7 linked regions of the Homo sapiens genome follow. The protein of the gene in region 1 interacts with the protein of each later gene in a pairwise test. Each region holds a gene or a part of one and is shown on either strand. Other genes may lie near its edges.

Region 1 (3,500 bases):
CCTTCTTGGGGGCTACAATCAGAGTGTTCTCTTTCTCCTCCAGACTCTAGAGCACAAGTTATCTGCATCATTCACTCAGAACTTCAACCGGTAATCTATTTTTATGTCACTCATTTCCTTTAACGATATAAATGATTACATTTTGTTTCATATTTTTTAGTATATTTTGTCTAATTAGTCTGAATCTTGTGTTCATCCCATAATGGCTTAGCATGATAAACGATCAATAACTATCCATTAGTGTGATTCTTCCCTTTGTCTTCTTCCTCTTCTAGTCTTTTCTTCTAGGAAGGCTAGGGCTTTTTCTAGTCCATCCCTTCTGAGATGAAGAAAGGTGGAGTCAGCACTGTTTCCTCCTACTGGGAGAACCCTCTGACAGGCAGTGATTGAGGAAATACCATGATTTACACTATTACTAATTATTTTACACTCTTCTGAGATACAGACTGGAGGAACTCCGGTCTATAAAGTAAGTATATTAATCTAGCACTGTCACTCAATCAAAATGTTTATGTATTGTATAGCTCTGTCTGAGCCCTATATAAAAAGGGAAGTCGAAATTTAAAAAAAATTAACATCACCACCCCCAATTTTGTTGTCTTGGAATATAATATTCTGCTTCATTCCTTTTAACAAATATTAATTGAGCACTCATTCATCAGGAGGATCTTGGGGACATATCAGAACAAATAAAAACACTGTCTTCATGGAGCTTATACATTCTTAACAGATATCTTCTGCATCATTTGTACTTCATGTAATAAGACTTATGTTGCAAACACTGTTATTGAATCACATTTTCATTAACAGGCATATGCTATGTATTATATTAGTTACTAATAAATCTAAAGTGTAAAGGGCAAAGAAGTTAAATACTACTGATTTCAACTATTTACCTTTCAGCAAACTAGTTAACAAAAACTGAAAAAACCTGAAGCTATGCAATAAATACACAATAACTCTATAAATAAAATGTGGTCTTCCATGAAGAGATAGGATAGGGAAGGGTAGCGTTGGCTGCTAGCTTACTATCTGTTCTAGAGAATAAGCAGAAATGGAGATAAGCTCAGTTCTGAGAGACAGAAAATAAAGTGTGAAGAGAGAGAAAATATCCCCAATTATAATAAAATGAAGGATAAGACATTATATCTGAAGAGGGATAAGGGCCAGGAAAATCGCAGCATGGAGATATGAAAAGGAGGCAGATGAAGGTAGAACAGGGAAGGGCCTAGAAGTACAAAGTGGATCCACTATAGATTTTCAATAAGGAAACTAACCCCAAAATTTCTTGTTTGGTAGAATCTTAGAGGAGGTAAAGCTTACAGTAATGACAACATCAAATAGACAGTACCTAAAATAGATATGTAAGTAGGAAGATTTCGGTTTTAGATAATAAGCTTTTTTAGCTTTAGAGTTAACACACAAACAAAAAAATTAAACCCTATTTAATTTTTAGCCCTGAATTAAGTCCTATTAATAAAGCACATAGAGTCCAATAGATGTTCAAAGCATATAATCATAGTCAACCCCTTACCTTTAAGGATGTCAGTTGATCTGCCCACATTTCTATTACAGGAACAAGATGCTCAAATCCACAATCTTGAACAAGATCTTTATTAAAATTTTGGACTCCCCCTTTGGTCTGTTTATAAATTATTACTGGAGCTCTTGGATTGTGGATAATTGAATTGATGCTACACAGCACCTTTAAAAAAACATAGTGTATATAGTCAAAATATTTATCCTATGCCTACAAAGTTATATATTTTAAAGGAGTGCTTTATGTCTATATATATTATATACACATATTTCATTAAATATACAAAGAAAATTATCATAAGGAATTGGCTCATGCAATTATGAAGACTGACAAGTCCCAAGATCTGCAGTGAGTAAGCGAAGACCCAGAAAAGGTAATGGGTATTTGCAGTCCAAATGCAGGCAGACTGAGACCCCTGCAAGTGCTAATGTTTCAGTTTGAGTCTGAAGGCAAGAAAAAAACCAGTGTCCCATCTTGAAAGCAGTCAGGGAGGAGGAGCTCCCTCTTATTCAGCCTTTTGTTCTACTCAGGGCTTTGAATCATTGGATGAGGCCCACCCCATTAGGAAAGGCAGTCTGATTTACTAAAGTCTACTGATTCGGATGTCAATCTCATCCAGAAGCACCTTCCCAGACACATCCAGAATAATGTTTAACCAAATATCGGGCATCCTATGCCGCAGTAAAGTTGAAACAAAATTAACTATTACAAACACTACCTAGGTTCAAAAATTGTTAGTATTTTGCCATATTTGCTCACTATCTATATTTTTAGGTGAACCATTTGAAGAAACTCTTCACCCTCAAATAATAAAGCATGCATCTTTTAAAAGTAGGCATATTCTCCTACAAACTCACAAGAACATTATCAGACTATTTAAGGAAATTAACAGCAATCCCCAGGCTGAGTGTGGTGGCTCATGCCTGTAATCCCAGCACTTTGGGAGGTTGAGGCAGGAGGATCACTTGAGCCCAGGAATTCAAGGCTGCAGTGAGCTATGATAATGCACTTCAGCCTGGGCAACAGAGCAAGACCCTGTCTCCAAAAATAATATCATTGATGCCTGGATTGAATTTTAGGTATCTTAATATATTAAGATAGTATACTATTTGACTATAACCCTCTCCCCATAAGTGATGGGTTCTACCTTACATATCATCCGAGGAAAAAAAGGGAGACCTCAAAAAGCATGTTTAAAGAGAGAAGAATAAAGCCATTTCCTATTACCACCATCAAGTTCAGCCTATTTAATAAAAAGTTTCACAATATAAAGATAGCATTTTGCTCTTGAATCTTTGTCCCTGGTCATACTTCAAGATATAACTAATAGGCCTCCTGGTAATATGACTTAAGATGTTTATTACTTCAGATGTTTATTTAGAAGCTTTTTAAGTCCAAATTAGTATAATTCAATATTTCACTTCAAATTGATGTATGTATATTTGTTTTATATATTTATTTGACAGAGTCTCACTCTGCAGCCTAAGATGGAGTGCAGTGGTGTGAACGGAGCTCACTGCAGCGTTGAATTCCTGGGCTCAAGTGATCTTCCCATGTCAACCTCTCAAGTGCTAGGACTACAGGCACAAGCCACCATGCCCAGCTAATTAAATTTTTTTTTTTCTAGAGATGTGGTCTCACTATATTGCCCAGGCTGGTCTCAAACTCCTGCCCTCTAGCAATCCTCCTGCCTCGGTCACCCAAAGTGTTAAGATTACAGGCATGAGCCACCATACCCGGCTTGAATTCCCCTTTTAAAGGACAAAGCCTCTCAAATTGAGTCTCAGAAACAAAATGAAATCCAGTTATATACTGGTACAAGAAAGTCTAAAACAAAACAGTTTTCAGAAAGGTGCTTGGTTCCCATTTACAATAGCAATAAAAGTTATAAAATACCTAGGAAATAACAAGGTATTTCCTAACAAGAAATATGCAAGAGCTAAATTTAAAAATACACAAC
Region 2 (3,121 bases), on another chromosome or scaffold:
GCAACTTCCACCTCCTGGGTTCAAGCGATTCTCCTGCCTTGGCCTTCAAGTAGCTGGGATTACAGGTGCCTGACACCATGCCTGGCTAATTTTTATATATTTTTTAGTAGAGACAGGGGTTCACCATGTTGGCCCATGCTGGTCTCAAACTCCTGACCTCAGGTGACTGCCAGTCTCAGCCTCCCAAAGTGCTGGGATTAGAGGCATGAGCCACCATGCCCAGCGAATACAGATCTTTTTGTACACCCTTCTACACAATCACATGCTCCAAGAAACACCATGTCCTTTTCTTCCTCTCCTGTAAGACAAAATTTTAAGAAGAAAATTTGTCTGAGGAATCAGTCCTCCGCCAGTCCTTATTTGCAATGTCTGGCTAACTGTCAACCTGTGGGTCCGTCTCCCAACCTACAGGACCTCATATCCCTCCCTTCTCAAATGCCTACCTCTTCCCTTCCCTTCCCCACCCCACACCAGACAACAGGCAGAGATAAACACAGTCATCAGCTCCTTAAACTTGATTTTATTGTAATCATCGCCATCAGTGGTGATGATTTGTCCAATTTGGTTTCTCCATGTGTGACTAATCCTCCCCACTGTCCTGTGAAGATCCTTCAGATAAGCCTAGGTCTTCATCCTCCTGTGAGGATCCTTCAGATGAGTCTAGATCTTTGTCCTCCTTTGAAGGTCCTTCACATGGGCCTAGGTCTTCATCCTCATTTGAAGATCCTTCAGATAAGTCTACGCCTTCGTCCTCCTCCTTTTGGATTGGATTGATGGAGTTCTCTTGGGACTGTTCATTCTCCAGTTGATTTGAATTTATTTTCTTACCCTTCCTGAGGTAATACACAAATATTATTGGATATTCTGATGTTTTTGTGTTCTTCAAACTCTGTTCGGGGGCTAAGACTCTGTTTGGTACCTCTTGCATCTGGTAAGAAAATAGGGAGAGGCCAGAAAGACATTATTTTGGGTGAATAGGATAGAGACTAGATAGCAAGGGGGGCTTTATGAGAAGGAATGCAGGTGGAGGAAGGGGTGTGTGCCAGAGAAGAACAAGGTGAAATCATAGGGTAGGTATCTATGCAGAAGAAGAAGAGGAGCATGGGTAGAGTCACCTGTTAGTCCAAACTGCATGATTTTGTAAGTTTTTGCTATGTTGCAGACCTTGGTCAAAGTGAAACATTCCATGGGGGTTCAGGCCATGAGCAACATCCTGCCTAACCACCTGACCACAAGGTGGACAAAGGCTCAACTAAAGAAACATCCCTATCATAAGTCCTGTTCCCCTTATTCTTTCATCTTCTCCAGCCCTGGGCTAACCTCCAGATATTGATTAAACTCTCCATCTTATTTTTCCTTCATTCCCCTTTCCAGGCAGCTGCAAAGGAACACCACAATGATATTCCACTGGAAAAAGGGCCAAACCACCTGATCATAAGAACATCTTATCAATATCCTCCTGGGCAGCAAGCCATACTGCCCAGCTCCCTCCCACCCATACCTGTAAGTACCCCAGGCTATAAGCGGCAGTGGGCTCTGGCATTAAGCTGGTCCCCCACTTCCACAGGTGTCTGCAATATTCCTGTGTTGTTGTTTGAGATGCACCCTCTCTGTCTGTCTTTCTTTCACCCTCATCTTCCCTTCAAAACCTAACACTTTGGTGCCAAAACCCAGGACGGTGATTGGGTTCTAATGGGTAAGTTTTCTCTTGCAACCTGGAAAGCAGAAAGCAGCAAGCAGCACAAACTAGACCGGGGCCTACTTCCAGATCCTGAGTGGACTGTCTGTTCCCAGTCCTGTTTCCCCTATTCTCTCATCTTCTCCAGCCCTGGACTAACCTCCAGATATTGATCAAACTCTCCATCTTATTTTTCCTTCCTTCCCCTTCCCAAGCAGCTGCAACCAGGATCACCCCCATTGCTGGACATCACATCCAACACTGGGCTTCAATTCGTGGGTGAGTCTCCCTATTCTTCCTTTCTGGATTCCTTTCTATTTCTGCTTGTTCTCCAAAAAAATTCCAGTGCTGGGTGAGAGGTCTCCCCAGTCACCAGGTGACTGCAGCCTCCCTTCTCAGGGGACAGCCTCAGAACACTTGCCATTCTGGCCGCTCCGTCCTCTGGGGAGCATGAATAGCTATGGGGCTGTCCCAACTCTCCAGGTCCCTTCTCCCAGGTGGAATCCAGTACTCACTTTCCTCTGGGGTATTCACTTCCCTCTGGAGAACTCACTCCCCTCTGGGGTATTCACTCCCTTCTGGGGTACTCACTTTCCCCAGAGTATTCACTCCCATCCAGAGTATTCACTCCCCTCTTCTAAAAAACAAAACATTCAACTTTCAAATTCAACATCATCTAAAAATCTTTCTCCAACACAATGGTAAATGATCTGAAGTGCTTTGCTTATCTCCGCTCATGCCTCACTCACTCTCCTGCCAATCTTGTTCACCTTTTCAAATCTTCCTCCTCAAGGAGAAACCCCCCAAAATGCCTCCTCCTCGGGACAAGCCTTCCTCCTCTGAATTTCAACCTGGCCAACAAACCCCTTCGTCTGGCTCCTGCCCTCTCCCATTCCCTCCACCTTCTCCTTCGGATCCGGCTCCTCCACCCCCTTACTGTCACCCTCCATCCCCCTTCCTTCTCCACCTCAAACCAGGTCTCACGCCCAACGCTCTTTTGCCGAAAACCAGACACATGCCCAAAGGCCTTCCAAAGTCTTTCCCTTGCAGGAGGTTGCAAGGACTGAAGGCATAATCTGAATTCAAGTTCCCTAGCTGACTTCTCCCATACTGAAAAGAGACTTTGCTCCTTTTCAATGGATCCTACCTCCTTCCTCAAGGAATGTCTGTACTTCCCTAAATCTTATGACCTTACCTGGCATGACATATATGTCATCCTCTCCTCTACCCTCACCCTGGAGGACAGGGAACACATATTTACGGGTGCCCAGGTCCATGAGAACACCCTCCACCAACAAGATGCTGCTCATAACCCAGTAGGGACCCTAGCTGTCCCCAGAACTGACCTCAATCGGAATTATCAGGCAACTTCTGTAGACAGGCAGAAACCAGGCCATATGATATCATGCCTTCTAGCTGGCATAAATAAAGTCGCCCCTGCTC
Region 3 (3,500 bases), on another chromosome or scaffold:
ACAGTATCCAATGGCTTATTGCTGGTACAAAGGAATATGCCCTTCCCTCTTTACAGAATTGTTGTGATGGTAGAACGAGTTAATAGAAATAAAAATTTTATAAGTGGTAAAGCAAAATACATATATATGATATTACTGAGCTCCCTTGAACATAAATTAAAGTTAACTTTAGTAAGTACTGAGGGTGGATTTTTAAAAAAAACTCTTCAAGGGTTGGTCCATCATTTTGAGATTATTAGGAATGAGTTTATATGGGTTTTCATATTAATTTAACAAATACATTATTATTGAGCTTTTACTATACATGGGTACTATTTTAGTCACTAGAGATACAGCAGTGGAAAACACTGAAAAGCAAGTAAGACAATTTTAGACAATAGCAAGTGCTACAAAGACAACACATATTGTGATAAAACTGAAAGCAAAAAGAAAAAAAAACACAAAAAGACAACACAACAGATCTTTTTCTTAATGATGGGAAGCGACTTCTTAGATTGGATGGACAGGCAAGACATCACTGAGGAAGTGACTTTTGAAGACCTCAATAATAGAGACAGTCTTGTATAAAGTTAAAGGAAGAATATTTTAGGCGGAATGTGGCAAGTGCAAAGGCCCTGAAGTAAGAACCACCTAGGTATGTCTGAGGAACAGAAATGAAGCTAGTAAGGTTTGAACACCATGACAGATTGGAAGCCCGGTAAAAGATAAGGTGGGAGTTTGAATTTTAAGTACAGTGGGAAGCCATTGGAGTTTAAATCAGTGGAATACATAAGCAAATTTACGTTTTTAAAGATCAGACCAGTAGGATGCGGCGGCTTACGCCTGTAACCACAGCACTTTGGGAGGGTAAGGCAGGCGGATCACCTGAGGTCAGGAGTTTGAGACTAGCCTGGCCAACATGGTGAAACGCCATCTCTACTACAAATACAAAAATTAGCTGGGCATGGTGGAGGACGCCTGTAATCCCAGCTATTCGGGAGGCTGAGGCAGGAGAATCGCTTGAACCCAGGAGGCAGAGGTTACAGTGAGCTGAGATTATGCCACTGCACTCCAGCCTGGGCGACAGAGCGAGACTCCAACTCAAAAAAAAAATAATAAATAAATCACACTGGCTTTCAGGATGGAAAAATGGATGGTATGGAACAAGAGGAAAAACAAGGAAATCTATTAGAAGTCTGGATTAGGATGGTAGCAGTCAAGAGTGAAAATACCTTTTCTGTTAATTCAGTTCAATATGACAGTGGCTTTTATTTTTTAGTTACCAAAATGGTGCTCAGAATGAATATATACATTAATGTATATAAATATACATGAATTTAAATACATACACTGAATTATTTGTATGATTTTCCTTTCATTAGATTGTTGAAATAATTATGTTCTATTTCTCTTTGTATCTCCACAATGCTTTGTCCATAGTAGTTAGTAAGTGAGATAGGCAACAAAAGCTTTAAGTGGAGGAGGGAGTGTGGGGGGTCTTATTTGTAAGATTTCTGCACTACAGGATAATCAATAAAACACACCTGCCGGCCCACTCGGTCAGGAGGAGGCCACAATGCATCATCCTCTTTGGTAATTTCACTGTCGTCAATTATTCTCTTCAGTTCCTCCATCACGCTTTTATGTACATAAGCCTGAACGCAAGTTAAAAAACAAAATGTATGTTGTATCCTTAAGCAGTGCTTTGACTCAGATAGTGATGGAAGATAAAAATAACTGTTCCTGCAGACTTATTTCTGGCATCTCCTTAAGTGGGAAGACATTCATGCTCAACCTCGGCATGATGCAGGTGAGGGACACGGTCAGAAGTATCCAGTAACTGCACCTCAGTCCCCTATCTAGCTGTTACTACCTCCTGGTACATCCTGTTCACATGGCCCTTCTGCCTGCCCACATACCCAACTCACAACGAAACCCAAAACAGGTCTGTGAGTGCCCCCTGCCATGGTTTGAATGTTTTTGTCTCCTCCAAAAAAATCATACTGAAATTAATCCCCAAAGCAACAGTGTTAAGAGATAGGGCCTTTAGGAGGTGATCAGGCCTTGAGGGCAGAGGCCCCAGGGATAGATTAGTGCTTTAGGAGAGAGCTTAAGGGAACTAGCTGGCCCCTTTCTTGTTCTTTCACCATATGAGGACACAGCATTCATTCCTTCTGGAGGATGCAAAAACAAGGCACAGTTGTGGAAGCAGAGACTGGGCCCTCACTAGACACTGAACTTGCCAGCGCCTTGATCTTGGACTTTCCAGCCTCCAAAATTGTGAGAAATATATTTTTACTGCTTACAAATTACCCAGTCTCAGGCATTTTGTTGCAGCAAAAAAGAGACTGCGACACCCACATGCCCTGGTTATTCTTTTTTTTTTTTTTTTTTGAAACGGAGCCTTGCTCTGTCGCCCAGGCTGGAGTGCAGTGGTGCGATCTCGGCTCATTGCGAACTCTGCCTCCTGGGTTCATGCCATTCTCCTGCCTCAGCCTCCTAAGTAGCTGGGACTACAGGCACCCGCCACCATGCCTGGCTAATTTTTTTGTATTTTCAGTACAGACAGGGCTTCACCGTATTAGCCAGGATGGTCTCGATCTCCTGACCTCGTGATCCGCCCGCCTCGGCCTCCCAAAGTGCTGGGATTACAGGTGTGAGTCACCGCGCCCGGCCAGTTATTCTTAACTAGGTAATACACTCCTGAGGAGCAAAATGTATTTTAAAAGATATGCCTGTGTAAAAAAATAGTGAGGATATTGACATGTGTGAATAAGCATAAAATCAATAGCTAAAATAACAATATGAAAATATATGCTAAGACATTTTCAAAGGTGGCAAAGTGGTTAAAAGGAAAGAGTAGCTTTGATGAAGCCTTAATGATGTAGTAGAAATCACAGAACGGAGAATACAAACTTTACTGGGGCAGGATTGGGAATTCCTGCTGTATCTCTTACTAGCAGGGGTAACTCAGAACAAGCCTCATAATTAATACCTGGGCCTTTATTTTCTTATTTGTAAGGGGGCTATAATACCCTCCCCCATCACATGGGCTTACAATCAGGGTTAAATAAGATGCCACGCCTGACATCTAACATGCATTCAATGATGTCAACTGCTTTCCCATGCTCCCTTTCCCACTCAGATGTAAATTAAATAGCTCTTCATTGTGTACCATGTACACAGGGAATATAGAGCACTTTAAATAGAACATATTTAATTTTATGACAGCACTTGGGAGTGGGAGGTAGCTTTTATTATTCCTGTTTTTACAGGTGAAGAAACAGAGATTTATCAAGTTCAGCCAGGAACTTGCCCAAGGTCACATGGGGTAGTAAGCAGCAGACTCAGGGTTCAAACCAAGGTATGTCAAAGGTTACCAGTAATTGATTCCACAATGTAAAATAAAAAAATCCCAACTAAAAGATGATTTGGGAAATAATCCAGAAGCTGTCTACAGACATGTGTCTCTCTCCCTGTTCTTTATCTTTCAATACTACTAGAAACAATAAAAACAATGC
Region 4 (3,500 bases), on another chromosome or scaffold:
GACAGGACAGTCAAGGTTGGTAGGGCCTGAGGGCTGCTTTCCTCTCTCCCCACTCCCACTCCCTCAGGGCAAACTCACCACTTGGACGGTGCCCACCTTGGGCACGCTGTAACCCTTCCTCCCCAAGGGGTTCAGATCCACGATGCCCTGGAAGGCCAGGGAGCCATCAGTCAAGGTGGGGACTAGGAAAACCCTGGGCCCTAAACACATGTCCCTCTCCACAAGCTCTCACCCTGAACCTGCCCCTGCCCTACAGTAGAGTTCTCCTCACCTGGCCCTGACTCACTTCTAGGTGAGGAATAAGTAAGAAATACCTCTTGCCCCCTGGCCCCGCCCCCAAATCCTCATCCTCTTGATGAGCTGACTTTGGGGTTGGAGTCAAGGCATACCAGGAAGGGAGCCGGGGCATTTTGCTCAGAAACATCAAAGAATGTGACAGTGACAGGCAGCGTGACGTGCTGGGGGCAGTATGACCCACTAGCTCCAATTTCTGCTGTGAAGCCCTCAATGTGGCCAGATGGTGCAAAACGTCCTCGCAGCAATGATTCCTGGGATTAGGGTAGGGAAAACACATGAAGAGAGAGATGCCAATTCTTTTCCTTATCCATCCAAGCCACATTCCACCATCCCACCTCTCCCAGGACCCCGGCAATCACAAACCCCAACGGGAGCTACCTCAAAGTTGCCCAGCAGGGTACGGCTGACAGCAGGGGTAGGAACAGGGGAGGCACTGGGGGGGCTCAGCAGGCCTGGCCCCTTCCGGAGGCTTCGAAGGGGGCTCCTGGTAGAGGAAGGGAAACACAGGGGGTTGGCTTGAGGTATTCTGGGATTCCTGCTTATGCCCTTGGACTCCACCCTCTGCCACTATGTAGGGCTTCTGCCCTGGGGTCCCCTACTCGGATGCTGGAAAGAGTACAGACTTCTGCCCCCATTCTCAGGGACAGGGTAGAGGAAAAAGCTGGTCACTTACAGCTTCAGGCGACGGGCTCCTTTCAGCCTCCGCCCCATGGGACCGCAGTCTGTTGGGTCCTACGGAGAGAAATGATTGGGAAAAGACACAGGGTGAAGGCCATGTATGTTTTGGGGCAGAAGCTCATCACAAACTCTCAAAGGAACACCCTGCCCCCCAGGCCTCCACCTTTACCCACACAAATATCCACTTAAGAGTACATGAAGGACAGGCGCAGTGGCTTGAGCGCCTGTAATCACAACACTTTAGAAGGCCAAGGTGGGTCGATGATTTGAGCTCAGGAGTTCGAGACCAGCTTGGGCAACATGGCGAAACCCCATTTCTACCAAAAATACCAAAAATTAGCTGGGTGCAATGTCATGTGCCTGTGGTCCCAGATACTTGGGAGGCTGAGGTTGGAGGATCCCTTGAGCCTGGGAGGAGGAGGTTGCAGTCAGCTGAGATTGTGCCACTGCACTCCAGCAGTGATGGAGTGAGATCCCATCTCAAAAAAAAAAAAAAAAAAAAAAAAGTAAAAAAAGAGTAAATGAGGTCCTTTATTGGCTTACCAAAACAGGCTCTTTGGGCCCAGGCAGCAGGTGGCTCCAGAAGGGTGTGGCTTTGGCATCAGAACTGTTGGCAGCAGTAGGGTGGCCCAGGGATCCCCGGCGCCTCCGAGGGGCTGGCCCCTCTTCCTCAGAGCTGACATCTGGGGCTTCTCCAGCAGGAAGCAGCCTTCGCTTGGTGGGGCAGGGGCCTGGGGGTCCAGGGCCAGGGGGTGTGTGCTCGGGACTGTGCCCATTGGCAGTGCCAGGGGACTCCCTAGGCCAGAGGCTACCCCCATTGCCCACCCCAGCCACTGGGCTCTTACCCCCTATTTGTGCAAGACTGTGCAAATCAGTGTCAAGTGTGTGCAGCTGGCCTGGAGGGGCTGGCCCTGGGGACTCCCCCAGGGACCCCTGTCCCCCTGGATCTGGGGAGGCCCAGTCTCTGGTGTGCAAAGTATTGCAGGAAGCATTTGATGGGGGGCAGGGGGGACTCCAGGCCCCCGAAGTCCAAGATGAGGTGACACTACTTCTCTGTTCCACAACACAGAGGCCACGGTGGGAGAAATGCTGGCTGGCCACACCTAGTCCCAGCCCCGGTCCCTCTGGGCCTAAGAGCCCCACAGTAGATGGTTCTTCAGGGGGTAGTCCCTCTCTGGCCCCCAGCCCAGGGCCTCTCTTCAGCTCCCGGGGACCCTCAGTGGATGGGGCTTGTCGTTTCAGGGCCCTATGAGGCTCAGAGGTACCAGCCGGAGGGGAAAAGATGGATACCTGGTAGACCCCGGGGGATGTCGCCCCCCCTGCTGGGCTGTAGCCCATGAGCAGGCCACCCTGGAGGGCCCCCTGCCTGACTGGAGGCTGTGAAGGGCCAGCCTCCGGCTCTGAGGATGGAGACGGCTCCGCCTGCACGTGGCGCATGAAGCCCCCCTTGGGTCAGGGGGGCCCCCCAACACGGCCTTTATGCTGGGCCTGGGCTGGGGGGCCTGGGGACATCTGTGTAAGAGAAGAGAAGAAAAGGTGGTCAGGGGAATCAATGAGTCTTCTTCCTTCCAGCTGAGTTTCAGACCCTCTCCTTGCCTAAAGGGGTGACTTTGATGGGTTCCCAAGGATGAATGTGTACAAATCCCTGGATGGACTAATGGAATATAGAGACCACTCTCAGAACTCCTGAGAGGGTGACAGGTTTAGCTCAGGCTTCTTACTGGACACACTTCCCCCTCTTCTCCCTGGTACTTACCCCGATGAAGAGGCCTCAAGCCTAGCTGTGCGTCCCCTCTTCCCAACTGATGCCTCGTGCCCCTAGCTTGCAGTCTGATCCATGCCTGCTGCACTGGCAAGGTGACTGCCACCATTCCGTGCAGCTCCTGAGCTCAGCAGGACCCTGAGGAGAGAAGAACAGACGTAAGCCAGGATCACTGGAGCCAGCGGTAAGGCCTGTCACCAATTATAGGCTAATAGTACACTCCAGGACATCCTTCTCCCATGTGAGAGGCTCTTCAGGAACAGAAAGGGTAGGCTTGGGGTCCAGGGCACAGATGGCAGAGTTGGGCTACCTAAGGAGTCAAAGAGGCAGGTCTTGGCTCAGTATAATAAGGATGTGACAAGTGAGTTGAGGTAGAATAACTACTTGTCAGGGCCACCATTTGAGGACTCCTGCCCTACATGGAGGAAGGGATGAGAGACCCCCAAGATCCAAGAGACCGTGTCAGCTGAGAGGCGGCCAGGGGAAGAATTCAGCTTTCTTACTCAAAGCCACCAAATTGCACAACTCCTTCTTATATGTCTATCTCCAAAGGGACAAGTGCCATCCTAGGGCACTAAGGGCAGAGGTCTCCCACACAGTTATACCCCATCAGCGGTCCTCAGAGGTACAAATTTCAAGTCAGCTCAGAGCTGGCCTTTCAGCCCTGAACTCCAAATTGCCTCCAGCAGCCTGTCTCTTTAACAAGAGGCAACAAATCCGACCAAAAACAAGAAGGGGAAGGGGAAGGGGTCACTGCCAGAAG
Region 5 (3,500 bases), on another chromosome or scaffold:
CAGAATCTGGCTGTAACTGTCTCCTTGCCAATGCTCCAGTACTCCCATTTTTCTCTGCTTCCCAGGAGCCTCTCAATATTCTGGAGACAGAAAGCTCCAGGAGACCTTGGTTTTATCCCCAAACGTCCTCTGTGGGTAAGGCTTCTCTCTCTAACCCTCCAGGTACCTTTATCCTTCTTCTTAAGCTTCTTGTTACGGGTTCCCTGCCTCAGGTATGAAAGGATCTGGGTCAGCTTGCTAATGACAATGTCATTTGTGGTCAGTGTGGTCTGGGCCTGAAAATACCAAGAAACAAGAATGTTAAACCACTCAGCAGAAATCTCTTCATTTATTCATTCATTCACTTAACAAACTAAAGACTGAATTACAATACAGTAGGTGAAGGGAGGGAAACGAAGTGCTGTGAAAGGATATTCCAGAGATAAAACAGCCTGCACAAAAGCCCTGCATCAAAATGAATCAAGACCATTCAAGAAAGTCAGGAGTCTAGAACATTCTAGAAAGGCCAGATGTTGCAGAGGCTCAAAGTCATGGTAAAGATTTTGCTCTTTATCCTAAGAATGAGATACTACTAAAAGCTTCTAAACTGTAGTGAGACAAAAATTTACATTTTATTTATTTATTTGGAGACAGAGTCTCATTCTGTCGCCCAGGCTAGAATGCAGTGGCACGATCTTGGCTCACTGCAACCTCCACCTTCTGGGTTCAAGCAATTCTCATGCCTCAGCCTTCCGAGTAACTGGGATTACGGGCACATGCCGCCACGCCTGGCTAATTTTTAGTAGAGATCAGGTTTTACAATGTTGGCCCACCTGGTATTGAACTCCTAACCTCAAGTGATCCTCACACCTCAGCCTCCCAAAGTGCTGGGATTACAGGTGTGAGCCACTGCACCCAGCCAAACTGTATATTTTAGAAGGGTAGGGGAGGTAGGGGTGGTTAATAGGTACCAAAAAAATAGAAAGAATGAATAAGGCCTACTACATGATAGCACAACAGGGTGACTATAGGCAGTAATAATTTATACATTCTAAAACAACTAAAAGAGTATAAATGGATTGTTTGTAACACAAAAGATAAATGTTTAACGGGATGGATACCCCATTTTCCATGATGTGATTATTATGCATTATATGCCTGTATCAAAACATCTCATGTACCTCATAAATATATATACCTACTATATATCCACAAAAATTTTTAAAAAAATTCTCTTTAAAGGATGAATTATATGGCATGTGAATAACACCTCAATAACAAGATATAATAACAAATCAGAGTGGAAGTGCGGAAACCAGAGTGGAAGTGCGGAAACCAATTAGAAGCCTTTTTAATAGCTCCAGAGGACTGGCGCAGTGGCTCATGCCTGTAATCCCAGTACTTTGGGAGGCCAAGGCGGATGGATCACTTGAGGTCAGGAATAGCCTAGCCAACGTGGTAAAACCCAATCTCTACTAAAAATAAAAAAATTAACCAGGTGTGGTGATGAATGCCTGTAGTCCCAGCTACTTGGAAGGCTGCGGCAGGAGAATCGTTTGAACCTGGGAGGCGGAGTTTGCAGTGAGCCAAGATAGCACCACTGCACTCCATCCTGGGTGACAGAGTGAGACTTGGTCTCTAAAAAAATAGTAAGTTAATAGTTCCAGCAAATGATTATAGCTTAGACTGGAATGTTATTGGTGAAAAAGTGGAAAAGTGAATGGATTCAGTTGAGATTTAGGAGGTAAAAGTGAACAGCACTTGGTGACATGGTGGACAAGGGACACGGGGCAGAGGCCAGGCTGATTCCCAGGCTTGAGGCTCACATGATAGGCTCTCAGGATTCCATTCACTCACCTCCATGGTGGGGCAATCAGCCTTGCTGCGGATAAGAGTGGTGGGGATATCTGTGTCAGCATACTCATCATCCAGGTCTACCACATAGGCCATGCGGCCCGGCAGGAACAACTCATTCCGCTCATATGCTTTGCTCTTAAAAAGCATTCGGTAAACATTGCGGCCTACAATAAGGAGAAGAGCAGCAAGTAGCCAGGATCTACAAGAACAGCTGTCACTTATGTGCTTACTCTGTGCTAGCCACCATGCCAAGTGCTATGCAAGCTTTGCGTCATTTAATCTTTGCAACAGCCCTATGAAGTGGATATTATTATCCTTTTTACTGATAAGAATACTATGGCTGAGATTTAAGTAATTTACCTAAAGTCATGTATCTACTAAGTAATGGAGCAAAGAATGGAACCAGGCCATGTAACTCCAAAGCCTGGGCTCCTGTCCACTCTTCTACATTGCCTCTTCAAGGGCACTATGCACCTGTATTGTATTAAGTCCTGTGAGGAAGAAGGATGAAGTTTAAGGTAATATTGATGATGATGGAAAAAACAGCTCTACTACCTGCTCAATATGATAGGCATGTTATAGATTTCATTTTTCTTCATCCCTACAATAAAGTCATGTGGTAAATAGTAACCCAATTTTTACAGATGAACAAACAGCAAAGTCAGTTGCCTAAAATCATACACTTAGTGCTGTTTCATCATCAAGGTTTAAACTCAGGTCTCTCTGACTCCAAGTTTTGAACTTTTAATCACTAACCATGTTACTTCTTTTAACTCATAAGCCCCAAACTGAAAAATCTTTCAATCTACCTGAGGAGACATAAATGACATATGAAATAATTAAATCTATGTCTGAGTCTTATTAGAGTATTTTATGGGAGTTAGTTGTTTTGGGGGCAAGAAAGAATCCCAGCTCTTTGGGAGGTCAAGGCAGGAGGATCACTTGAGCCCAGGAGTTTGAGACCGGCCTGGGCAATACACAGAGAACCCCATCTCTGCAAAAAATAAAAAAAAAAATTAGCTAGGTATGGTGGCACATGCCTGTGGTGCCAGCTACACAAGAGGCTGAGTCCAGGAGGTCAAGGCTGCACTGAGCCATGATCACACCACTGCACTCCAGCCTGGGCGATTAAGTGAGACACTGTCTCAAAAAGAAAGAAAGAAGAAAGGAGGTTGGGGGAAAGGAGAAGCATATCCTTCCCAGAGCATTAAATTCCGTACAATTCATCCAGAATGCATAGTCACTAGTATAGAAACTGTACTCACCCAGACGTGTTTTAAATTCAATTTTATTTTCAGGATCCTCATCTTTCCTGAAAAGACAAAAAAGTTTTATTTTTGCTAAATGTGCTCTAACTTTAGGTCCCACCTTTCTAAATTCTCAACCTTTCCATAATATTTACTTACTTGGTTTCTTTCTGGGGCTTTTCCATCAGTTCCTCTTCCTCTTTCTCTTTGCTGGCAATCTCAGCTCGTACCTAACAGGAAAGCAAGCAGGGTTAGGACACTCATTTTATATATTTATTGAACATCCACTACACCACACTGTACCAGGAACTAAGAATATAATATTAAACATGACAGATATTGTTCTTACTCTAATGGAGCTTATAGCAGATGAGACAGACAAATTAAACAATTTCAACAAAGTACAATAACTGCTGT
Region 6 (3,500 bases), on another chromosome or scaffold:
GGCAAGCTAGAGAGGAGTCAGGGGACGCTTGGAGTCCCTAGGTGGGAAAGATGTCAGAGACGCAGGAGCTGAGTGGCAAGGCAGGGAGGAGTGGCGCCCAGGCTGGCCGAGTCGCACACTGACCATACTCGGAGGCTTTCCAGGGCAGCAGGTCCGAGGACCTCGCTCCGTGTTCCTTGAGCTCCTTTGCGCCCCCTGCCTTTATCCCACACGTGTCCCGAGCGCCTTGTGCCAGGCCCAGGGACAGAACCAGGCAGGCAGCAAGGACCTGCCCCACACTCCACACAATGCCCCACTGACAAGGAGAGGCCACCCCCAGAGCACGGGGAAGAAGAGAGAGGCAGAGAGAGGCAGTCCCGCAGGCTGAGTGGTGCCCTGGGCCTGGGTGGGCCTGACTGCAGGGCAGGGGTGGGAGGGGTACGCTTTAGCAGTGAGTTTTCTGATGAGTTGAGCTGGAAATGCTGTGTCTGCTTCATGGGGCAGAGTTCTACTGAGTGGGAGGTTCTTTCTGAATTCTCTCCAACTTACAGAAGGCTATAATTTATTAAATATAGTTATTGACTTTCCTTCTTAAATATTTAGAAATGAATCCTGCCCTTCCAAAGGATTGGCAAATCTTAGCTGGGATACAGAGGCATGAGTGTTTAGCATTTTCATTTCAAATTTCAAGACCGTTTATGTATAAACATTTTTAGAGACTAGAATTACTGCTCAGAACGAATTTTGCCCTTTGTCTCCAGGCTGCTTAATCCCCAATTTCTCTTACTCTTTCTACTTCATACATCGATTTCTTTTATTACCTGTCTTCTTCAGCCTGCCAACTTCAGTACTTATTTAGATGATTAGAAGTTTTAACAGTCCTCTGTATGGCTGTGGTCATAGCTGAGGTCTACCAGTAATAAGCCTTATAATGCAACCTAGAAATTACTTCCTGCCCTGAGGTTAACACTGGTTGCATCTTGTTGATTGTGGTCCTAGATACATGTTTTTATTTAAAATGAGGCACTTATGTACATGGTAGTTAATATTGGAACAGTGCCTTGTTTGGGTGGGTCTGCATCATTCCAGTTCTGTGTTAATTTTTAGAAATCACGATACGTAAATGAAGCTACTGGAAATTAATAGAACATGTAGAAGGAGTTACAGGAAATACCAAGAGGTGCCATTGTTCATGTTCCACATCAGATGTTCATTAGAGTGGGCACGGGCAGCCTTTGCATGTTGGATCACACCCAGGCGCCCTTTCTGGGTTTCAGTATCTCTAGAGTTGGACGGGTCTGTGAGAACACCTGTGCTTCATGGCCAGGGGCTGGCTCTCCGTTCTCACGTGGTGCAGAGTGTAGTGAGCTTGCCCGTCAGAGGGGGTGTCTCGAGTGGATGAGGATGTGGGGGGAGCAGGGGCCTCCCAGCCTGGCTCTCAGCACTGCCTTTTCTGTTCACCCTGGGGTCCCTAGAAACACTACTGTACCTTGAAGGCCCCCTGGACCCAGGGAAGCCCAGTGTGCCGGGCACCTCCTCCTCTACAGTGCCAGGGAGGCCCAGAGTGCCGGCACCTCCTCCTCTACAGGCCAGGGAAGCCCAGTGTGCCGGCACCTCCTCTACAGGGAGGAGGCAGGGCTCAGAGAGTGAGAGGAAGTCGCCCAGGTGCGTAAGGGGACAGCTCCTCTGTGGCCGCTGCTGCTGTTATTTACACGCGTGCCTGGATGCTCTGACCTCAGGCCCGCGGACTTTCCCTCTGAGCACATGCTGAGATGCGGTCCGGGGGCGCCAGCCTCAGAATGCCTCCCGCAGGGCTCGGCCCCGAGGCAGCAGATGCCAGAACGCCCTGCGATTTCTCAGGTGGACCAGTCGGCATCTCCAAGGAACAAATTCTCAGAAGCCTCCTTTAGTTCCAGAAATGGGCTTAAAAAAAACCTTGCTTACAAAGGAAATGAAAACTTTGCAAACATTAGAACGTCTCCTTATTTTGTTCCCAAATGATAACACAAGCATTTCCTCTACAGCATAACTTACTGATAATTCTTTAACTTTTGACAAAAAAAAAATTGCCTAGGAAAAATGTTTTCCTCAGTAGCCCTTTAATCATTCCTTACACAATGTAATATGTGAGCAAATCTAAAGGGAGTTGCAGGGTTTCCTCTGGGGCGAGGTGCGCCGTGAGTTTGCTCCTAAGTGAGAAGGCCGGGCTTTCTGTTCTGTAGGAACAGCCTGAGTGTAAGTGTTTGTCAGGAGAAGCGTTTCTTCCTATCCCCAATGGCCAGTCATATGTCTTTGGGGAAATGTCTCTTCAGATCCTTGGCCCACTTTTATACTGGCTGCTTCAGGTTTTGCTGGTGAGTTGCTGGAGTTCCCGCATGTTCTGGATACTGCTCCCTTGTCGGATGAATGGCTTGCACATGTTTCCCCTTCCCACAGGTCGTCTCTTCACTCTGGTGATTCTCTTCCTTTGCTGTGCAGAAGCTTTTTAGTTGAGCAGAGTCCCAGTTGCCTGTTTTCGTTTTTGTTGCCTGTGCTTTTGAGGTCTTAGCCATGGATCTTTCACAATAGCCAAGAGGTCGAATCAACCTCAGTGTCCTTCAGTGGATGAATAGACAGAGAAAATGTGGTGCTGTACACAGTGGAATACCATGCAGCCATCAAAAAGGATAGAACCCTGACATTTGCAGCAACATAGATGGAACTAGAGGCCCTCATGTTAAGTGAACTAAGCCAGGCACAGAAAGACAAACATGGCATTTTCTCATTCATCTGGGGGAGCTAAAAACGTTGCTGTCATGGAGGTAGAGAGTATAATGAAATCTGTTATCTATTCATTATTAACGTTAGCTTCTGGCAAGGGGATTTCTATCTGCCAAACCCCACTAACTAGCATGATTACAACAACATTTTATTCCTTCTCTTTGTTTGCCCATTCATTCAGCAGACATTCCTTGAGTAGCTACTGTGTAGGGGATATAGTGGTGATAAACTATTGTCCTTTTTAGCAAAACACGTTCATTCTACAAGCAAAAAGATGTTAAATATCACAGTAGTTCAAGTCCTTGGAGACTGTTGCTGCTGACTCTTCCTGTGTGGCCTTCTAATCTTTACTCCTGGCTTGTGTTTGCTTTATCCAAGCCCATTCTTTAAAAGGTACATGATCTATAACCTGTTTTTCTAACTTAATGTATCATAAACAAGTGTCCAAGTAATCAGCTAGATCGTTCCCAACCCCCAGAGCATCCCGGTGTGCAATGCCCCTCCGTTCTGTTAACACCAAGGTGTCGGGGAAGCCGCATAGCTCTGCCATGCCTGCTGGGTGCTCGGCCCTGCAGCGGAGGCTTCATGGGCATCAGGCCATCTCCTTATTTCTTAACGTTACATCCCAAGAGTGGAGCTCCAGCATCAAAGGTTAGACAGATTTTGAAGGCCTTTGACATAGATTGCCAAATTGTCCTGCAGAAAGGGTGCCACTAACTGATTTGTGATTCACCCAACAGTGTTCGCCGTTCCTCTAGGCC
Region 7 (3,500 bases), on another chromosome or scaffold:
ATATACATATATTTTGAGACTGAGTCTTGCTCCGTTACCCAGGCTAGAGTACAATGGCATGATCTCAGCTCACTGCAACCTCCGTCTCCCGGGTTCAAGCAATTCTAGTGCCTCAGCCTCCCAAGTAGATGGGATTACAGGCGTGCGCCACGACGCCCAGCTAATTTTGTATTTTTAGTAGAGACAGGGTTTCACTGTGGTCAAGCTGCTCTCGAACTACTGATCTCAAGTGATCCACCTGCCTCAGCCTCCCAAAGTGCTGGGATTACACGTGTGAGCCACCACACGTGGCCACAAAGAATATTTTTTAAAGACTAATATTTTAAAAGATGAACTACTAGATAGAAAAAAAATACTTTCTATGTAAAAAAGAAAAAAAAAAAAAAAACTGGCCAGGCACAGTGGCTCACGACTATAATCCCAGCACTTTGGGAGGCCGAGGTGGGTAGATCATCTGAGGTCAGTAGTTTGAGACCAGACTGGACAACATGGCAAAATCCTGTCTCTACTAAGAATACAAAAATTAGCCAGGCATGGTGGCGCACACCTGTAATCTCAGCTACTTGGGAGGCTGAGGCAGAAGAACCGCGTGAACCCAGGAGGCAAAGGTTGCAGTAAGCCGAGACCATGCCACTGTACTCCAGCCTGGGTGACAGAGCTAGACTCCATCTTAAAAAAAAAAAAAAAAAAAAGCCTGGGTGTGGTGGTTCACACCTGTAATCCCAGCACTTTGGGAGGCCGAGGTGGGCAGATCATAAGGTCAGGAGTTTGAGAACAGCCAGGCCAATATGGTGAAACACCATCTCCACTAAAAATACAAACATAAGCCGGGCGTGATAGTGGGTGCCTGTAATCCCAGCCGCTCAGGAGGCTGAGGTGGGAGAATCGCTTGAAGCCGGGAGGCGGAAGTTGCAGTGAGCTGAAATTGCGTCACTGCACTCCAGCCTGGGGGACAGAGCAAGACTCCGTCTCAAAAAAAAAAAAGAAAAAGAAAATAGCCAAGTATGGTGGTGTCCACACGCAGTCCCAGCTATTCGGGAGGCTGAGACAGGAGGGTGGATTGAGCCTGGGAGGTGGAGGCTGCAGTGAGCCATGTTCATGCCACTGCACTCCATCCTGGTTGACAGAGACAGACCTCAGCTCAAAAAAAAGGGAGGGTGAAGAAGAAGACATGTTCACGTATATTTGTATATACACAAACTACCTCTAGAAGTATATAAAAAGTAATTTTAAAAAACTTCCAAAATTTAACTTTTTTTTGAGATAGGGACTCACTCTGTTGCCTAGGCTGGAATGTAATGGCTTGATCACAGCTCACTGTAGTCTCAAACTCCTGGGCTCAAGTGATCCTCCCATCTCAATGTCCCAAGTAGCTAGGACAACAAGCTCGAGCCACCATGCCTAGCCAATTTTTAAGTATTTTGGAGAGACAAGGTCTCACTATGTTGCCCAGGCTGGTCTTGAACTCCTGGGCTCAAGCAATCCTCTTGTCTTGGCCTTCCAAAGCACTGGAATTATGGACATGAGCCACTGTGTTGGGTCCAATTTAACTTTTTTTTTTTTTTTTGCGTTTAGGAGTGGAGGTTTAATAGGCAAGAGAAAGAGAAAGGAAAATAGTTCTCTCTCTAGTGAGAGAGAGGGGTCTTCTGAGAGGAAATGGCCCCAGTTTAGCATTTTTAAGTGGGAGAAATAACAAAAAAACAGAGGCAGGGACAAAACAGAGCCAGGAATAGGGTAAAATCTCCTACAGAACCAATGAGAGAAGGCATGTAAACTTAAAGAGAAGGTATACATTTCACTCTAAGCCTTCTTCCAGCAGATAACACAAAAAGGGAGACCATATCAGTTAAACAGACGCAGCGTTCATCAGAAAAAAAAAAAAATCCAATTGCTCATGAAATTAGTTATACTATTCTCGGTACTAAGAATAGAGGGGATTTTTCTCCCTCTGGATCTGTCTAAAGAGAACACTGAATGGTGCTGTCAACATTGTCTCTACAACAGCTACAACAATGAGCAATCATTATTTCCCCTAGGGTATGGTCACTGTCATATGACAATATTAAACATTTTGACTTTGCAGCCACCATGTCTTTTGTCTTAAGCTGATCACAACCTTACCTTGGTTCCATTTGGTGTTGCAGGGGAGGCTGGGGAAAAGGCAGAGCTTGCGTCAGGAGATTTGGGAACAAATGAGGGTTGATCTAGGGCTGAAGCTGACGTAGAGGATGGCGAAGTCTCAGACAGAGGTTGGTTCTCCTGCATATGGGGTAGGACGTGCTCTACCACCCATCCAGAATAAGAAGATAGCTTGGGAAGAGACATACATTCTTCTAAAACATCCTAGAGAAAAGAATAGGGTTAAGCTCAACTTACACGTCAACTGTTCTCAGTATAATCCACTACATGCCTTACTGAACATCTAAGAAGGCCTAAATAAATAAACATCAAAGACCCAAAGTAATGTATTAACAATCAGATGAAAACAAAGTACAGTGGTTTCTTGATAATGACCTAGACTACTATCCTTCTAATGAAAATCAGACTAAATAACCCTAACTACAGAAAAAGGGACAATGCACAAAGATTCCCACTAAAGCATATGTGAAAGCAATCTAAAGCACTGAACAGAACACGAGGAATTCTGAAGTAAGCTACTGTATACACAATCAGTAGAATGTCAGTCACTTAACAATGGGGGTAAGTTCTGAGAAACACAGGGTTAGGTGATCTTGTCATTGTGCGAGTATCGTAAAGCATCCTTACACAAACCTAGATGTATATATTTTTTCATTTTTAAAATTAATTATTTTTGAGACAGGGTCTCACTCTGTTACCCAGGCTGGAGTGCAGTGACCTAATCATGGCTCACTGTAGCCTGACCTCCTGGGCTCAAGCTATCCTCCCACCTCAACCAGTCTCCCCAGCAGCTGGGAGTACAGGCATGCGCCACTATATTCAGCTAATTATTTTTTCATTTTTTATAGAGATGGAGTCTTGATATGTTGCCCAGGCTGGTCTTTTTTTTTTTTTTTTTTGAGATGGAGTTTCGCTCTTGTTGCCCAGGCTGGAGTGCAATGGCACGATCTTGGCTCACCACAACCTCCACCTCCCAGGTTCAAGTGATTCTCCTGCCTCAGCCTCCTGAGTAGCTGGGATTACAGGCATGCACCACCATGCCTGGCTAATTTTGTACTTTTAGTAGATACGGGGTTTTCTCCATGTTAGTCAGGCTGGTCTCGAACTCCTGACCTCAGGCGATCCACCCGCCTCAGCCTCCCAAAGTGCTGGGATTACAGGCGTGAGCCACTGTGTGCCCAGCCTTTTTTTTGAGATGGAGTCTTGCTCTGTCACCCAGGCTGGAGTGCAGTGGCACGATCTCAGCTCACTGCAACCTCCACCTCCCGGGTTCAAGCAATTCTCCTGCTTCAGCCTCCCGAGCAGCTGGGATTACAGGTGTCGACCACCACACCCGGCTAATTTTTGTATTATTACTAGAG

Evidence for each region.
Region 2: the proteins of CEP70 (region 1) and SPANXN3 interact in binary tests that used the Homo sapiens proteins (3 or more experiments, as listed by UniProt).
Region 3: the proteins of CEP70 (region 1) and MAGOH interact in binary tests that used the Homo sapiens proteins (3 or more experiments, as listed by UniProt).
Region 4: the proteins of CEP70 (region 1) and ATOSB interact in binary tests that used the Homo sapiens proteins (3 or more experiments, as listed by UniProt).
Region 5: the proteins of CEP70 (region 1) and IK interact in binary tests that used the Homo sapiens proteins (3 or more experiments, as listed by UniProt).
Region 6: the proteins of CEP70 (region 1) and HDAC4 interact in binary tests that used the Homo sapiens proteins (3 or more experiments, as listed by UniProt).
Region 7: the proteins of CEP70 (region 1) and GLE1 interact in binary tests that used the Homo sapiens proteins (3 or more experiments, as listed by UniProt).

What each region holds. Positions count from the first base shown.
Region 1 is NC_000003.12:138,503,761-138,507,260, forward strand, and holds part of CEP70 (centrosomal protein of 70 kDa), read right to left. Parts: intron 1,706-3,500; coding exon 1,535-1,705; intron 118-1,534; coding exon of another isoform or gene 76-117; exon of another isoform or gene 1-75.
Region 2 is NC_000023.11:143,508,235-143,511,355, forward strand, and holds the end of SPANXN3 (sperm protein associated with the nucleus on the X chromosome N3), read right to left. Parts: intron 929-3,121; coding exon 581-928; 3' UTR 501-580; downstream 1-500.
Region 3 is NC_000001.11:53,232,019-53,235,518, forward strand, and holds part of MAGOH (protein mago nashi homolog), read right to left. Parts: intron 1,635-3,500; coding exon 1,524-1,634; intron 1-1,523. UniProt on the Homo sapiens protein: Required for pre-mRNA splicing as component of the spliceosome. Plays a redundant role with MAGOHB as core component of the exon junction complex (EJC) and in the nonsense-mediated decay (NMD) pathway.
Region 4 is NC_000009.12:35,105,863-35,109,362, forward strand, and holds part of ATOSB (atos homolog protein B), read right to left. Parts: exon of another isoform or gene 3,343-3,500; intron 2,876-3,342; 5' UTR 2,732-2,875; intron 2,488-2,731; 5' UTR 2,413-2,487; coding exon 1,519-2,412; intron 1,030-1,518; coding exon 971-1,029; intron 782-970; coding exon 676-781; intron 549-675; coding exon 390-548; intron 148-389; coding exon 79-147; intron 1-78. UniProt on the Homo sapiens protein: Transcription regulator that may syncronize transcriptional and translational programs.
Region 5 is NC_000005.10:140,654,329-140,657,828, reverse strand, and holds part of IK (protein Red), read right to left. Parts: intron 3,314-3,500; coding exon 3,243-3,313; intron 3,149-3,242; coding exon 3,102-3,148; intron 2,001-3,101; coding exon 1,837-2,000; intron 276-1,836; coding exon 167-275; intron 1-166. UniProt on the Homo sapiens protein: Involved in pre-mRNA splicing as a component of the spliceosome. Auxiliary spliceosomal protein that regulates selection of alternative splice sites in a small set of target pre-mRNA species. Required for normal mitotic cell cycle progression.
Region 6 is NC_000002.12:239,135,521-239,139,020, reverse strand, and holds part of HDAC4 (histone deacetylase 4), read left to right. Parts: intron 1-3,500. UniProt on the Homo sapiens protein: Responsible for the deacetylation of lysine residues on the N-terminal part of the core histones (H2A, H2B, H3 and H4).
Region 7 is NC_000009.12:128,507,719-128,511,218, reverse strand, and holds part of GLE1 (mRNA export factor GLE1), read right to left. Parts: intron 2,344-3,500; coding exon 2,122-2,343; intron 1-2,121. UniProt on the Homo sapiens protein: Required for the export of mRNAs containing poly(A) tails from the nucleus into the cytoplasm. May be involved in the terminal step of the mRNA transport through the nuclear pore complex (NPC).